4 linked regions of the Homo sapiens genome follow. The protein of the gene in region 2 interacts with the protein of the main gene of each other region in a biochemical or structural test. Each region holds a gene or a part of one and is shown on either strand. Other genes may lie near its edges.

The links.
Region 1: the proteins of RAF1 (region 2) and LOX form a complex in vitro, tested with the Homo sapiens proteins (one study listed by BioGRID).
Region 3: of the proteins of RAF1 (region 2) and TRIM22, one has a biochemical effect on the other in vitro, tested with the Homo sapiens proteins (one study listed by BioGRID).
Region 4: the proteins of RAF1 (region 2) and XIAP form a complex in vitro, tested with the Homo sapiens proteins (one study listed by BioGRID).

Annotation. Positions count from the first base shown.
Region 1 is NC_000005.10:122,075,460-122,079,595, reverse strand, and holds the start of LOX (protein-lysine 6-oxidase isoform 1 preproprotein), read left to right. Parts: upstream 1-1,336; 5' UTR 1,337-1,610; coding exon 1,611-2,241; exon of another isoform or gene 2,242-2,594; coding exon 2,595-2,703; exon of another isoform or gene 2,704-4,054; coding exon 4,055-4,136. UniProt on the Homo sapiens protein: Responsible for the post-translational oxidative deamination of peptidyl lysine residues in precursors to fibrous collagen and elastin. Regulator of Ras expression. May play a role in tumor suppression. Plays a role in the aortic wall architecture.
Region 2 is NC_000003.12:12,608,618-12,612,117, reverse strand, and holds part of RAF1 (RAF proto-oncogene serine/threonine-protein kinase), read left to right. Parts: intron 1-55; coding exon 56-168; intron 169-2,782; coding exon 2,783-2,885; intron 2,886-3,194; coding exon 3,195-3,352; intron 3,353-3,500. UniProt on the Homo sapiens protein: Serine/threonine-protein kinase that acts as a regulatory link between the membrane-associated Ras GTPases and the MAPK/ERK cascade, and this critical regulatory link functions as a switch determining cell fate decisions including proliferation, differentiation, apoptosis, survival and oncogenic transformation.
Region 3 is NC_000011.10:5,688,482-5,692,589, forward strand, and holds the start of TRIM22 (E3 ubiquitin-protein ligase TRIM22), read left to right. Parts: upstream 1-1,308; 5' UTR 1,309-1,418; intron 1,419-1,745; exon of another isoform or gene 1,746-1,815; intron 1,816-2,196; exon of another isoform or gene 2,197-4,108. UniProt on the Homo sapiens protein: Interferon-induced E3 ubiquitin ligase that plays important roles in innate and adaptive immunity.
Region 4 is NC_000023.11:123,866,553-123,870,052, forward strand, and holds part of XIAP (E3 ubiquitin-protein ligase XIAP), read left to right. Parts: intron 1-3,500.

The DNA.
Region 1 (4,136 bases), on a different chromosome or scaffold from region 2:
AAGAAAAGGAAAATGGATGTGAGGCAGTCAAAATCAGCAGAGGTCCACCACACCACCAAAATGTGGTGATTAAATATGGAGAGACAGAGACTAACAGAGGTATGTGAATATTGAAGTATGTCTGGACAATAGCCCAATGATGAGACCAATAAAATGGTTACCAAAATCTGGTTTTGAGTAGTAGTGTTAAATCAGACCATTTAGTAACCATTTTTTGTTGCAAAGTTTCTAGCACTGCCCAAACCCTGAGTGGTATATGAATAACTCGTCCATTATGTATCTCTTTCCAGTCAGCATAATTTATCCCCCACCTATATTCTTTTCTGACCACTCCTACTTCCTTCTCTTTACCAAAATCTAAACTCTAAGGCTGTTTCTTCAGCAACTTCTTTGTTTAGATTGGAAGATAAATTAAACAGCATGCGATGTTTTACTGACTTTCAGTATTTAACAGAGGTGATTTAATTTTTTTTTAAATCCAAAGTCAAACTTCTTTATAAGATGAAGGAGAAAAATGTCTTATAAAATGCATATGTGAAGATGCCTTCTGAGTGCTTTCTCATGCAGACTTGTTCTAGTCTTTAATGAATCTTCCTTGTAGACACTGTGGAGATGAAAGATGGTTCTCCACTTCTACTCAAAGTACAAATCAGGCCGGCATTTTGAAAAAGAGACAGGTTTATTCATAGCTGCAGCGTTAGCTGGCTTTGTTCCCTGTACAATTTCACTTTTGGTTATTAAAATATTCACTGTAGGAAATAAATTTGTAACCCATTTCTCATATTACCTACACACAGAAAAACAAAATTTGATATCCTGGGGTTTATTTGCTGAGGGCGCTTCCCATAAAAGCGAGAGAGTGTGCGTTGGGAAATGTGTCTGGTTAACTCTTTTATGGATAAACTTTAGTCACAATCCTCCCCCGCCCCCCTCTCACCCCCAGCACCCTCCCAACCTCCCGACTTCCCGCCTCTCAAGGGCTGGTGACCTAATAGCATTTTTCTTCGTGCATATTTTGGCGTCGCCCCATGGCCTGGCTGCCTTCGCCTGTCTGAGTTTTTTGAAATTCCTGCATGTTCGCCCCAGATTAAGCCAGTGTGTCTCAGGATGTGTGTTCCGTTTTGTTCTTTCCCCTTAACGCTCCCTGTGCAACGTGTCTGGGGGGAGGAGGGCAGGGACGGGAGAGAGGGAGGGGCAGAGGCGAGGAGCTGTCCGCCTTGCACGTTTCCAATCGCATTACGTGAACAAATAGCTGAGGGGCGGCCGGGCCAGAACGGCTTGTGTAACTTTGCAAACGTGCCAGAAAGTTTAAAATCTCTCCTCCTTCCTTCACTCCAGACACTGCCCGCTCTCCGGGACTGCCGCGCCGCTCCCCGTTGCCTTCCAGGACTGAGAAAGGGGAAAGGGAAGGGTGCCACGTCCGAGCAGCCGCCTTGACTGGGGAAGGGTCTGAATCCCACCCTTGGCATTGCTTGGTGGAGACTGAGATACCCGTGCTCCGCTCGCCTCCTTGGTTGAAGATTTCTCCTTCCCTCACGTGATTTGAGCCCCGTTTTTATTTTCTGTGAGCCACGTCCTCCTCGAGCGGGGTCAATCTGGCAAAAGGAGTGATGCGCTTCGCCTGGACCGTGCTCCTGCTCGGGCCTTTGCAGCTCTGCGCGCTAGTGCACTGCGCCCCTCCCGCCGCCGGCCAACAGCAGCCCCCGCGCGAGCCGCCGGCGGCTCCGGGCGCCTGGCGCCAGCAGATCCAATGGGAGAACAACGGGCAGGTGTTCAGCTTGCTGAGCCTGGGCTCACAGTACCAGCCTCAGCGCCGCCGGGACCCGGGCGCCGCCGTCCCTGGTGCAGCCAACGCCTCCGCCCAGCAGCCCCGCACTCCGATCCTGCTGATCCGCGACAACCGCACCGCCGCGGCGCGAACGCGGACGGCCGGCTCATCTGGAGTCACCGCTGGCCGCCCCAGGCCCACCGCCCGTCACTGGTTCCAAGCTGGCTACTCGACATCTAGAGCCCGCGAAGCTGGCGCCTCGCGCGCGGAGAACCAGACAGCGCCGGGAGAAGTTCCTGCGCTCAGTAACCTGCGGCCGCCCAGCCGCGTGGACGGCATGGTGGGCGACGACCCTTACAACCCCTACAAGTACTCTGACGACAACCCTTATTACAACTACTACGATACTTATGAAAGGCCCAGACCTGGGGGCAGGTACCGGCCCGGATACGGCACTGGCTACTTCCAGTACGGTAAGTACCCCCAAGTCCGCTGGAAGCACCCGTGCACCTGGTCCCCAGCTATGTGGCTTCTCGACGTGGCTGCCTGGGCGCGGCGGGCCCCGGTCCTCGCAGATCCGATCCCTCCCCCACGCGCCTGCAGTGGCAGCCCTGGAATCCAGTGCAAACCGCGCGTCTGGCCCCTCCTGCTTCCTTTTCACATTGCTTTGCAGTCCCGGGCGTCCCCAGTTCTCTTGCTGTCCTCCGCTCCACTCTGCAGTCCCGGTGGGCGAAGGGTGAGGAGTAAGGGACCTAGAGGGGTAGGGAGTTGGAGCGGGGGGCGCCGGGTTGTTTCACTGCTGCGCCCGTCGCCTGCTGACGTTTAGGTCTCCCAGACCTGGTGGCCGACCCCTACTACATCCAGGCGTCCACGTACGTGCAGAAGATGTCCATGTACAACCTGAGATGCGCGGCGGAGGAAAACTGTCTGGCCAGGTACGGGCTGATATGTCTGAGGCCCCGCTCCCCGGTCTACCTTCAGGGGGCGCTCTGGTGCCTGGTTCTGACTGCTACTGCTTCGCGCAGACAAGTGTTAGGAAGTGGGACAAGAGCTGGGAAGTGGGACGTGACCTCCTGGGCATGCTGACCTGGACGGAGAGTTAATATTTTTGAAGATTTCTGTGGGTTCTGTCTCAAAGTGCAGCAGGAATCACAGAGGTGGAGGAAACCCTTATCCTGGAGACTGAAAGTCTCATGCTCTTTTTCCAAGATACTTAAACTTGGGAGTCAATTGTTCCAATCACTTTTCATAAAACAACTATACAGTAATTCAAAAAATTTATTGTAATGGAAGGGTGTGTTAATACCCCCTTAAAAGATTCGGGGCAAATTTGCCATCGTAGCCTCATTGGTAAAGACTAAGTTTTCCTCTTTTGTTTGAGACCACGATGAACTTGGTTGTTTTGGTATTACTTCAGCCAGAATAAGACCGTGAGCAAGAGCTTTGTTTTTCCACTATTCTAAAATAAAATAGTAACTCTGGGATTGGGGTTCTCTGGGTTTACTGCTGGGAAACAGCAGAGGGAGCAAAAGATGTTTTAATAAAAATTTAAAGTGTAAAATAAGGTCATCAATACCACCTGAACATATAGACACACTAAATATATTAGTAGGAACACAGTGATGTTTATTTGTACATTTCTTCCACTTTGACCCTTTATAATTGTCAGGCTAAAGGAAGTGAAGAAATCCAAGCTCATTTTCATTCCTGAGTCTTGCATCACTCACACCATTGAACTCCCTATGATGTTTTTACAGTACTGCCATTGTTTTGGGATAGTGAAGTTACAAAATTATTAATTTAAATCTGGGTATGCTCTTTTAGAGTTATTTCCTCAGTTTGCAGCTCATTAACTTTTTTAAAAGTTTTGTTAAGTTTGAAGTTTGTAATAAACATCTATGAATTATTTTTTTTATTGGGGGATTATTTCCACTTCAGTTTCACTCATTCATATGATCAAACTTGAATTGATTCTAAAGTTTACTTCTGACATTTAGATTTTTAATGCTTATTATGTTTTTACTGTTAAGATCTGTGGATTTCCATAGGTGTTATTCATTCACTTATTCACCAAATATTCATTGAGCTCTGACTACTCCAAGACGGTTCTAGGAGCTTTGGATTCAGCAATGAACAAAAAGAAACAAAATGCCTTAGACTCTTGGAACTGATAGTCTAGTTGGGAAAGGAGGATTGTCACTACTATATAATGGATGTTTTATTTGTAGTTTTGTCTTTAGTTAATATTCCATGAATATAATAATTTTTCTTTTTTCAAAATCACAGTACAGCATACAGGGCAGATGTCAGAGATTATGATCACAGGGTGCTGCTCAGATTTCCCCAAAGAGTGAAAAACCAAGGGACA
Region 2 (3,500 bases):
TTTCCAAGGGGTGCTGCAGCCTGTGTTGGTCCTAAAGGTGGTCCTTTGTTTGTAGGTCAATGTGCGAAATGGAATGAGCTTGCATGACTGCCTTATGAAAGCACTCAAGGTGAGGGGCCTGCAACCAGAGTGCTGTGCAGTGTTCAGACTTCTCCACGAACACAAAGGGTAAGAGCTCAAAAGTCAATTGACTTCTTCAGACTAGTAAGGATCTTCTAGCTTCAAATAGCTATGTTTGTATTAAATTGTACTAGCTTCCTATAGAATATTGTATATTTCTATACCTTTCTTTATAAAGAGATAATTCAGAAAAATAGGTATTAAGAAATTGAAATTATTGCTTGGACATTCTCTTGAAAAGTTAAATACACGTTAAGCTGGGCCTGATGACCAATACCTGTAATTTTTTTTTCTTTTTGAGGTGGAGTCTTGCTCTGTCGCCCAGGCTGGAGTGCAGTGGCGCGATCTCGGCTCACCGCAAGCTCCGCCTCCCGGGTTCACGCCATTTTCCTGCCTCAGCCTCCGGAGTAGCTGGGACTACAGGCGCCCACCACCGCGCCCGGCTAATTTTTTGTATTTTTAGTAGAGACGGGGTTTCACCGTGTTAGCCAGGATGGTAATACCCGTAATTTTAACACTGGGAAACTGAGGCAAGAGGGTTGCTTGAGGCCAAGAGTTCAAGACCAGCCTGGGCACATAGCGAAGGCCCATCTCTACAAAAGATTTTTAAAAATTAGCCAGGCATGGTGGTGCGGCCCTGTAGTCCTAGCTGTTCGAAAGGCTGACGTGAGAATATTGCATGACCCCAGGGGCTTGAGGCTGCAGTGAGTCATGATTGTGCTACTGGACTCCAGCCTGGGCTGGAGCAAGATCCTGTCTATTAAAAAAAGCCAAAAAACAAAAAAACAAAAACAAACACATGTTAGGTATTGATAATGTTTCCATGGATGGAAACAGTGATGTTAGATGCTGTGTTTTTTTGAGACAAAGATTTTTCTTTGTGTTTACTCTAATGCATTATATAGACTGGGCACTCAGAAAGTGCATTATTTTATATAAAGAATGCTATCCTCGGGAGATTGACTTTTCTCATTCACTAATTTTTTTTTTTATTCAGTTAAATGTGTACTAATCCCTGCTGTTTGATAGATTGTTTAAAGATGCAGAAGCATTTCTGCTTCAGGGAAGATTCATGGTTTATCCTATTCCTAATGGTGGTGGCAAGATAGAGGCATCCCCTCAAAGGCTAGGAGTAATACCTCAAAGCAGCAGAGCTGTCCATAATTATCCATTATCCATTATTCCCTCCACCCCGAAAATATAGGGAAACCTTTAAAGGGTTCTTTTTTACCCTCTTCTTGGAAAGCGTCACTTATGTTATTCATCGTTAGCTTACATTTTTTCATGTTTCAAAGAGTTCTGCAGTTTGGGAGAATAGCCCAGGGAATGAATCTACTCGAAGGGGTGAGTGTAATTCTCAATTTAGGAGGCGTTTGTTGAAGTGCAAATCTTTGAAGCAGACGTTAACTTTTGCTGAAGGTAGCCCAGGTTGGGTCCCTAAGCCAATCCATAGTGTTCCTTAAGGACTAGAGAGATTCTGAGACAGGGAGGGCTTGGTCTACTCTCATCCAAGGCTGCACTGGTTTGGAGCTACTCTGGAGTCTCTAGGACAGACAGCAGATTGTCACTAGGATCAGTCTGCAGATTGATGAGAAAATAAGGCTTGTCCTCCTTCTCTTCATAAGGGCAAAATAGTCCTTTGGAGTTATAGGAAGTTTTCCAGGTGCTGTATAGGTAATTATATTAAGGAATGTATTGTTTACTGTTGGATAGTGAGAAAAATGGCTTGACTAGGCTTCTGGTAGATAATGGAGAGGCTTGAATGGTGCTATACATGTTATTTTCTCTTTACCTGAGAATATTCTTCCTTTGGAAAATGGGCCAGATTAACTGGATAAAACATAAGAAAGGAATTGGGCATTACTTTTTACTTATGTATCTATTTTTTGTCTTATTTATACTGTAGGCACAGAAAGTGTGGTTTCAGAGTAGATTTTAAGACAGTTAAGTTTCTCATTGACTTATAGACCCTACAACTACAGATTTGAGTCTGTTATTAATTAATAGAAAAGTACATTTTTCATTTGTGGTTCCTTTCTATTTATCTAGATTGAAATAGGCTACTGAAGACTAAATTTTGTACTGCAGCAATATTTATAATCCATTTTACAGGATTTGGGGATTTTTGTAAGATTTTAGTGTTACAAATTCCAATTTAACGTATATTGACTTTATTGTGAGATTTTATATATCATTGTTTAAAGAAAACTTTATTCTGGCCAGACATGGTGGTTCACACCTGTAATCCCAGCACTTTGGGAGGCTGAGGCAGGAGGACCGCTTGAGGCCAGGGATTCAAGACCAGCCTGGGCAACACAGCAAGACTCTCTCTCTACCAAAAAACATTTTTTTAAGTAAATAAAGAGAAAACTTTATTCTGAGAACATGGGCTTTGGAGTTCAACAGACCTAGATTCCAACATAGGCCCTTAAACTTGCTGTGTGGCCTTGAGCAAATTACCTTCTTAGAGTCCCAGTTTTCTTATTTTTCAGATAGAAATAATACCTACTTCATAGGTTTGTTGTATGAATTAAATAAATTATTGTTGTATGGATTAAATAAAGTTGTGTTTATATGGCATGTGATAAATGGTAGCTGTTGTTATTTCTATTGAACTTTGATCTTGTTTAAACATTTCATGTTTTTTTTAAATCCTTTCTAGTAAAAAAGCACGCTTAGATTGGAATACTGATGCTGCGTCTTTGATTGGAGAAGAACTTCAAGTAGATTTCCTGGATCATGTTCCCCTCACAACACACAACTTTGTAAGTTGCAGATCTCTTCTCTTTCTGGCATGTTGAGGGCTTTGCCAGGCATAACAGAGATTTCTCAGGTAATATGCGTATGTATATATATATATAGTTGGATTGTTTAAAGTTCTTTATGCTGTTGTTTACAGTAAGGCAATTTAGATTTCATTAGTCAGAGATATACTCTAATTTGTGATTATGAATTCTGTACATGCTGGAAGTATGATTCATTTTGTAAAAACTTTTTTGGAGGCCAAGAAATGAAGTTGTCTTTTGTCATCTTTTATTTATTCAGCATAATTTACACCTGTGTTCTTGTTGTAGGCTCGGAAGACGTTCCTGAAGCTTGCCTTCTGTGACATCTGTCAGAAATTCCTGCTCAATGGATTTCGATGTCAGACTTGTGGCTACAAATTTCATGAGCACTGTAGCACCAAAGTACCTACTATGTGTGTGGACTGGAGTAACATCAGACAACTCTTGTAAGGCATTGTTCTTTTATCCAAGGAAGATAGGGATGAGGAGTATACATACTTTAAAGGGTATTTGTTGTAGATTTTGACTGACAGGTCTGGATTCTAGACTCATTTAATGAATTGTGATCCAGAAACTACTTTAGAAACAGTGATA
Region 3 (4,108 bases), on a different chromosome or scaffold from region 2:
TGGCCATGCTCCATAGTGTCAGTCAGGGATCCATGTTATGGAAGCTCCATGAGTTGCCTTTTTTTTTCTTTTTTTTTGGGTGTGTGTGTGTATGTGTTGTGTGGTGTTTGTTTGTTTGTTTTTTGTAGAGACAGGGTCTTACTATGTCACCCAGGCTGCAGTGCTATGGTGCAATGACGCAATCTTGGCTCAATGCAACCTCCACCTCCTGGGCTCAAGCCATCCTCCCATCTCAGTTTCCTGAGTAGCTGGGACTACAGGTGCACATCACCACACCCAGCTATTTTTTTTTTTTTAATTTTTCTTAGAGATGGGATTTCACCATGTTGCCCAGGCTGGTGTTGAAGTCCTGGACTCAAGTGATCCACCCACCTGGGCCTCCCAGAGTGCTGGGATTACAGGCATGAGACACCACAGGCCTCCATCAGTTTTTGATGGCATTATCTGGCACATGCAGTTAAACAAGAATACAATAGACAACAGGGTACAGAAGTATGTGCATGACGTATAACATGTTTCAGTGCTGCTTTTTAATTGATTGTGTAAAAATGACCAAACTTTTCTTAGAGAAGCAGGGAAAAGTGGAAAAATTATGAAGGCATGAGAGTAACTCAATGAATGATTATAATTAAACAGCATCATCTGTTAACTTCCATGTTCTCACCTGCCTCAGTGGCTGGGTAACATGACACTGACACAGTTTTACCTCTATTACTCTCTGGAATCCATCCTCATCTGGTCTGTCTGGATTAGGAGCAGGAAGTGATAATTAATTGATGGACTCTTAAGATTTAATGACATTTTGAGAACATTTTTTTCAATGGGCTCACACTAAAGATCCTTTTATTTATAAAAATAATTTTTTTACCATTCACAATGTCAGCTGCTAATACTCATCTTGTCAGCCCAAATTTGTAGAGCTTTATAACTGAGTATCTTCCTCGTCAGACTGCATTTCAAGAAGCTAGGTCCCAAGTCTCTGGATCTTTATTTTCCTGGCTTAGGTCTTAAATATAAGATAAATTCGACTAATAATTATAGGACTGCATTGGAATTCTAAGTATTCAGGCAAGCTGTATAACTGTAATTCACATTCTTTTTATTCAAATATTCTTGCTTGAGTAAACCACAGTAAGAATAAGGAAGTAGTGACTGAGTGCCTTGCCAGTACAGCAGATGCTAGAACATAATGTAGCATTACTTTCCCCAGGGTTTATTGTTATGTAAGTTCTTGTTCAGCTTCCTTTGTTTTCTTTCACTTCTGAGAATTTAACTTTCGTTTCTCACTCAGCTCCTGTGGGGAAACTCATTTGTGGAGACCAGCCCTCTGGCTTGGTGAGTGAATCTGGTTTACACCGGCTCCTGCCCTGCCTTCACTCTTCTCCCCTGATTCAAGACTCCTCTGCTTTGGACTGAAGGTGAGTGGAGCAATCTGTGGGAGCATAGAATGGGAGGCTTTGAGAAGAATAGATTGATTGTGTCTGGGTGAGTTTAATTTGTAGTTCTGAAGCTGCTCTGCATAAACAAAAAGAGGCAGCTTGTGAACTGTCTGCTGAGATGGCAGAGGAAGAAAGCACTGAGTCTGGGAGAGGGGTAACCTTTAAAGAAGAGAGGTTTGCAAAAGCAAAAAGCCTTGCTTGTTTCCTAGAGGGACCATTCATTTCTTCAATCTAGGTACCTCCATCACCTTCCTTGTTGGAAATAAAGCTCAGAATCTTAAGGGAGACGAGCACTCAAACAAAGGATTTCTCAGCAAAGCAATTTTATTTCTGTGCAGAGGGGTGCTTCTTCTTTGCCAGTCGCCATGAGAGCACACTAGAACAAAGGAGGAAGAAAGTTTTTATTCCTGACGCAAATCCTACCCCTTTGCCCTTTCCCCATTGGCTGGAGTCGGCCACACAATCTAAACTAGACTCAGTTGGCTAAACATTTTAACTTTCTTTAGATAAGGTGGGCACGTGAGGGAGAGAGGGGAGATGGGGAAGGGGTGTGTGTGATGAGCTAGATAACTAATCTTCTTCCAAAATAAGGAAAGGAATGTGAGTTGGTACTGATAACGCCTGGTACTGTGACATGTCTAGGCATGTAGCAAAAGCAGAAAGGAAAGAGAAGAGAAGAAAAGTGAAGTGGGGAGGGGCACTGTGAATTAAAGAATAAAGGATTGATCAGGCTATTTGAAGAGAAACCTTATCATACCCCACATTCCTATTCTGTCATTTTGATTTTTCCATTTTGCCAACGTGGATCAGAATTTTCTTTTATTCAGAGGCAGCAAATTCCTTCCTCCTTTCTCCCGAAGAAGCCTGTGCAATGAAGCTTTGTTTTCACTTTTCATAAAGCAACCTCATGATGAGGTTCAGCAGGGATGAGAGCCCTTATCTGGATCTGGGTATGAGGCGAAGGAGTCTTAGGTACTCAGTCTTCAGAAGTAAGGCCCTTTTGAAGGTTATCCTTTTACTTGCCTTCTGGTAACTTTTTGGATGCTGTCCATAGCTTTCCTGATAAATTAGCAGCCCTCTGGTTAGTCCGAGGAGAGAGGCCGCAGGACGGGCAGACTGCTGCTCATCTCTGCAGCTCCACTTTGGTCTCTTGTCTCTGAAGGTCCAGTCACAGGGAACTTGTTCTTCTGAGTACCCACAGCTTACTCTTCCTTTGTAGCAGGACCAGCCACAGAAAAAACTCCTCAGACACCGAGGTAAAGAAGGAAGGGGTTTATTCGGCCAGGGGCATAGGCAAGACTCCTGTCTCAAGAGCCGAGCTCCTCGAGTGAGCAATTCCTGTCCCTTTTAAGGGCTCACAACTCTAAGGGGGTCCGCGTGAGAGGGTCGTGATCGATTGAGCAAGCAGGGGGTACGTGACTGGGGGCTGCATACACCGGTAATTAGATCGGAACAAAACAGAGTAGGGATTTTCACAGTGCTTTTCTATACAATGTCTGGAATCTATAGATAACAAACCAATTAGGTCAGGGGTCCATCTTTAACTACCAGGTCCAGGGTGTGGCCCCGGGCTGTCTGCTTGTGGATTTCATTTCTGCCTTTTAGTTTTTACTTTTTCTTTCTTTGGAGGCAGAAATTGGGCATAAGACAATATGAGAGGTGGTCTCCTCCCTCAACTTCTGTAGCACCCAATGAACCTCTGGTATCCACTCCTGTTTTAGAAGTTGCTATTATTCTAGGTACACCTTTTCATCATGAGTTACCTCAACTCCCTACTCAATTTTCCCTTGCACAGAGCTAAGGCAAGGAGTTGGTAATTTCTCCTGAGTCTTATCTCGATCTTATCGCTGAGCATTTTGTACCTTGATGCCTATGTCACCCATATTCTGATGTGTCCTTTTCTTTGTTTCACTTTTCAGAGGTCCAGGTAACTGTCTCCTTATGTGTCTGTACCGCACATCTTGTCAAGGTCCATATCTAGTATTTATTCATTGTCAAGTCTAGTACAGGACCCAATAAATAAAACTGTACTTTTAATTTTTGAAAAATATTTTTGACTAAATTCACAAAACAAAAGCATACAGGTATAGTAAAAAAACAAAAACAAAAACAAAAAAACTATCTATTCGATATATAATCAACATTAAATACCGGTAAGAGATTATGCTCTGGACTAGGGAAAAGGAAGTAAACACGCAGTCAAAAAAAGGAAGTAAACCAGCAGTTTTAATGTAGCAAAAAGGTAGCAGTTACTAGAGGATAAATGTAAAACCAATAAAACAAAAGCAACAAACTAAAAGGGCTGCAATAGGATGTGGTATCTGTAGTGCTCTTGTCAAGGGCTTTGCAACTTTAAATAGATTTCACATTAGGTCTCACTGTGAGACAATGATTTTGAGCAGTCTTCAATAAAATGATGGATTTAAGAACTGATGAACTAACTGTGAGAGAAAGAGATGACACTGGGGTAGCTTTATGAAATCTGTCCTCTGTTACAAAATGACTTATCTGAAACATATTGACCAGAGAGTTAGAACTCTTGGAAAAAGGGTCATTACTTGGGGAAAACTAAACCCTGGACATTTTAGTGGGTCATTGAAAAAGGAACTCTGAGTTTAGACAAATAAGAAGTGGTAACGGTGTTTCTGAGTTCTCCAGGTTTCTGCATG
Region 4 (3,500 bases), on a different chromosome or scaffold from region 2:
TGTATGATATATATAATATAGTATATAATATATTACATGTATAATATATTATATATAATATATAATACAATATATGTAAAATATATATAATATATAACACAATATAATATGTAAAATATATTACATATATAATATATATATTTTTCAGACAGAGTCTAGCTCTGTCACCCAGGCTGGAGTGCAGTGGTGAGATCTTGGCTCACTGAACCTCCGCCTCCCAGGTTCAAGCGATTCTTCTGCCTCAGCCTCCCAAGTAGCTGGGACTACAGGTGTGCTACCACACCTGGCTTATTTTATTTTATGTATTTATTTATTTTTCTGAGACGGAGTCTTGCTCCTGACCTCATGTGATCTGCCCGCCTCGGCCTCCCAATGTGCTGGGATTCCAGGCATGAACCACCGTGCCTGGCCAGAGATATGTGTTTATTATAGAAAATTTATGAAATAGAATAATGACGATCATATTGTCTACAGGTTGTTTTAATCCCCCCCCCCCCTTCAACATTCTATAGTTAACATTTCTGTTTTTTTTTTTGAGACGGAGTCTCGCTCTGTCGCCCAGGCTGGAGTGCAGTGGTGCGATCTCAGCTCACTGCAACCTCCGCCTCCTGGGTTCATGCCATTCTCCTACCTCAGCCTCTCTAAGTAGCTGGGACTACAGGTGCCCGCCACCACGCCTGGCTAATGTTTTTGTATTTTTAGTAGAGACGGGGTTTCACCATGGTCTCCATCTCCTGACCTCGTGATTAGCCCGCCTCAGCCTCCCAAAGTGCTGGGATTACAAGTGTGAGCCACTGCGCCCAGCAGTCTTTTTTTTTTTTTTGGTTTGGTTTGGTTTTTTAGACAGAGTCTCACTCTGTCCCCCAGGCTGGAGTGCAGTGGCACAATCTCAGCTCACTGCATCTCCGCCTCCTGGGTTCAAGTGATTCTCCTGCCTGAGCCTCCTGAGTAGCTAGGATTATAGACATGTGCTACCACGCCCGGCTAATTTTTGTATTTTTAGTGGAGGCATGGTTTCCCCATGTTGGCCAGGCTAGTCTTGAACTCCTGACCTTGTGATCCGCCCGCCTTGGCCTCCCAAAGTATTGGGATTACAGGTGTGAGCCCCCGTACCTGGCCTTTTTTTTTTTTTTTTTTTGAGACGGAGTTTTGCTCATGTTGCCCAGGCTGGAGCGCATTGGTGCAATCTCAGCTCACTGCAACCTCTGCCTCCTGGGTTTAAGTGATTCTCCTGCCTCAGCCTCCCAAGTAGCTGGGATTACAGGCGCACGCACAACCATGCCCAGTTAATTTTTCTATTTTTAGTAGAGATAGTGTTTTACCATGTTGGCCAGGCTGGTCTCGAACTCCTGACCTCAGGTCATCCACCTGCCTTGGCCTCCCAAAGTCCTGGGATTACAGGCATGAGCCACTGCGCCCAGCCTGAAGTCTTTCAAAATACATTTTTTATTTATCCAGTGTATTATTTTATACTGCACTTTCTTCATCTGTAAAGTAACAGGGTCAGGCATGGTGACTCATACCTGTAAGCCCAGCACTTTGGGAGGCTGAGGTGGGAGGATTGTTTGAGACCAGCCTGGGCAACATCGTGAGACCCCGTCTCTACCAATAATAAAAAAATTAGCTGGATGTGATGGCACGCGCCTGTGAAGATCGCTTGAGCCCGGGAGGTCAAGGTGGCAGTGAGCCATGAGGGCACCACTGCATTCTAGCCTGAGTGACAAGAGTGAGGCCCTGTCTCAAAACAAACAAACAAGCAAACAAACAAACAAAAAACCCAGGGTGGCTGGGCTTAAGGACTAGTTGATTCCAACGATTCAAAACCCATTATAATAGTTTTTAAGCCTGATTATCTGAGATTTTGTCAAGGAAAAAAATTCCACATAACAATCCCAGGCCAGGCATGGTGGCTCATGCCTTTAATCCCAGCACTTTGGGAGGCCAAGTCAGGGAGATCCCTTGAGTCCAGGAGTTCAAGACCAGCCTGGGCAACATGGTAAAATGCTATCTCTACTAAAAATAGAAAAATTAACTGGGCATGGTTGTGCGTGCACCTGTAATCCCAGCTACTCTGGAGGCTGAGGTGGGAGGATCACTTGAGCCCAGGAGGTGGAGGTTGCAGTGAGTCAAGATCAGGGCACCCCATTCCAGCTTGGGGGACAGAGCAAGACCCTATCTCAAAAAACAAAAACAGGAATTTGAGGCCAAATTTATGGATTATATATTTTATCTGCTCTGTATGTGGTTAATAATAGGTTATCCTTTATATGATAAAAACATACTTATGTCCATTTTGCAGGACTTGGCATGGGCTTTTATTGTTTTAAATTGTGATACATTTGTAGCTCTGCTGTTTGATACATTTTGGGATTTGATTTTGGTATGATTTGGTACCCAGTCTTTGTTATGGATACATGTGATTCACCTTGTTATGATATAGTTTTATGTATTTTCGAGGATATGGGTCATAGTGAAAAGTCACGTTTACCTGTACAGACTGAGAATAGCTTGATCTCAGATGGTCAGATGTTGAACCAAGTGGATTAAAGCTGATTTCTTAAACCGGACAAGGCTGCTGCCATTGTGCATTCCCTGGTACTTATAAAATATTATGGTTTGAAATTTTATTCTTATTTCTGTAATCATCTTATTCACCTTAAATACAGAAATACAGACATCTGGCTGGGCGCAGTGGCTCACACCTGAAATCCCAGCACTTTGGGTGGCCGAGGCAGGTGGATCACTTGAGGTCAGGAGTTCAAGACCAGCCTGACCAACAGAGCAAAACCCCATCTCTACTAAAAAAATACAAAAAAAAAAAAAAAAAAAAAAGCTGGGTCATGCCTCTGCAATCCCAGCTACTTAGGAGGCTGAGGCAGGAAAATTACTTGAGCCTGGGAGGTGGAGGTTGCAGTGAGCTGAGATCATGCCACTGTACTCCAGCCTGGATGACAGAGTGAGACTCCATCTCAAAAATAAAGAAAAGAAAAAAAAAACACAGACATCTCAGCATATATTACCATGTGACTTAACCTTTCTATGGTTCTAGCTAATTTTTTAGGCCTTGAAAGGGAAGGAAGCCTAACATTTTCTGCTACCTCATTGGACTGTCCCTTCTGCCAGTAATCCTTGTAGTAATTTCCTTAGACCTATATTGGTCATAATCACTGGGTGCATGACCTTTGATGAGTAACAGTCAGAACTACTGTTTCCTCATATTTCAGATGAGGCCTATGATATATTATGTAGGTTAAATTAGATTCCATATATGAAAACATTCTAAATTGTAAAGCACATTACATATGTTAGTTATTATCAAAGGTAACATCGTGAAAGAAGAGAAGATGAGCTATAGAATCACACAAGCCCATGCTTAAATTTTGACCTTACATTAAACCAAAGAGGATTGATTTTTTTTTTTAATTGAGACGGAGTCTCGCTCTGTCGCTCAGGCTGGAGTGCAGTGGCGCAATCTCAGCTCACTGCAACCTCTGCCGCCC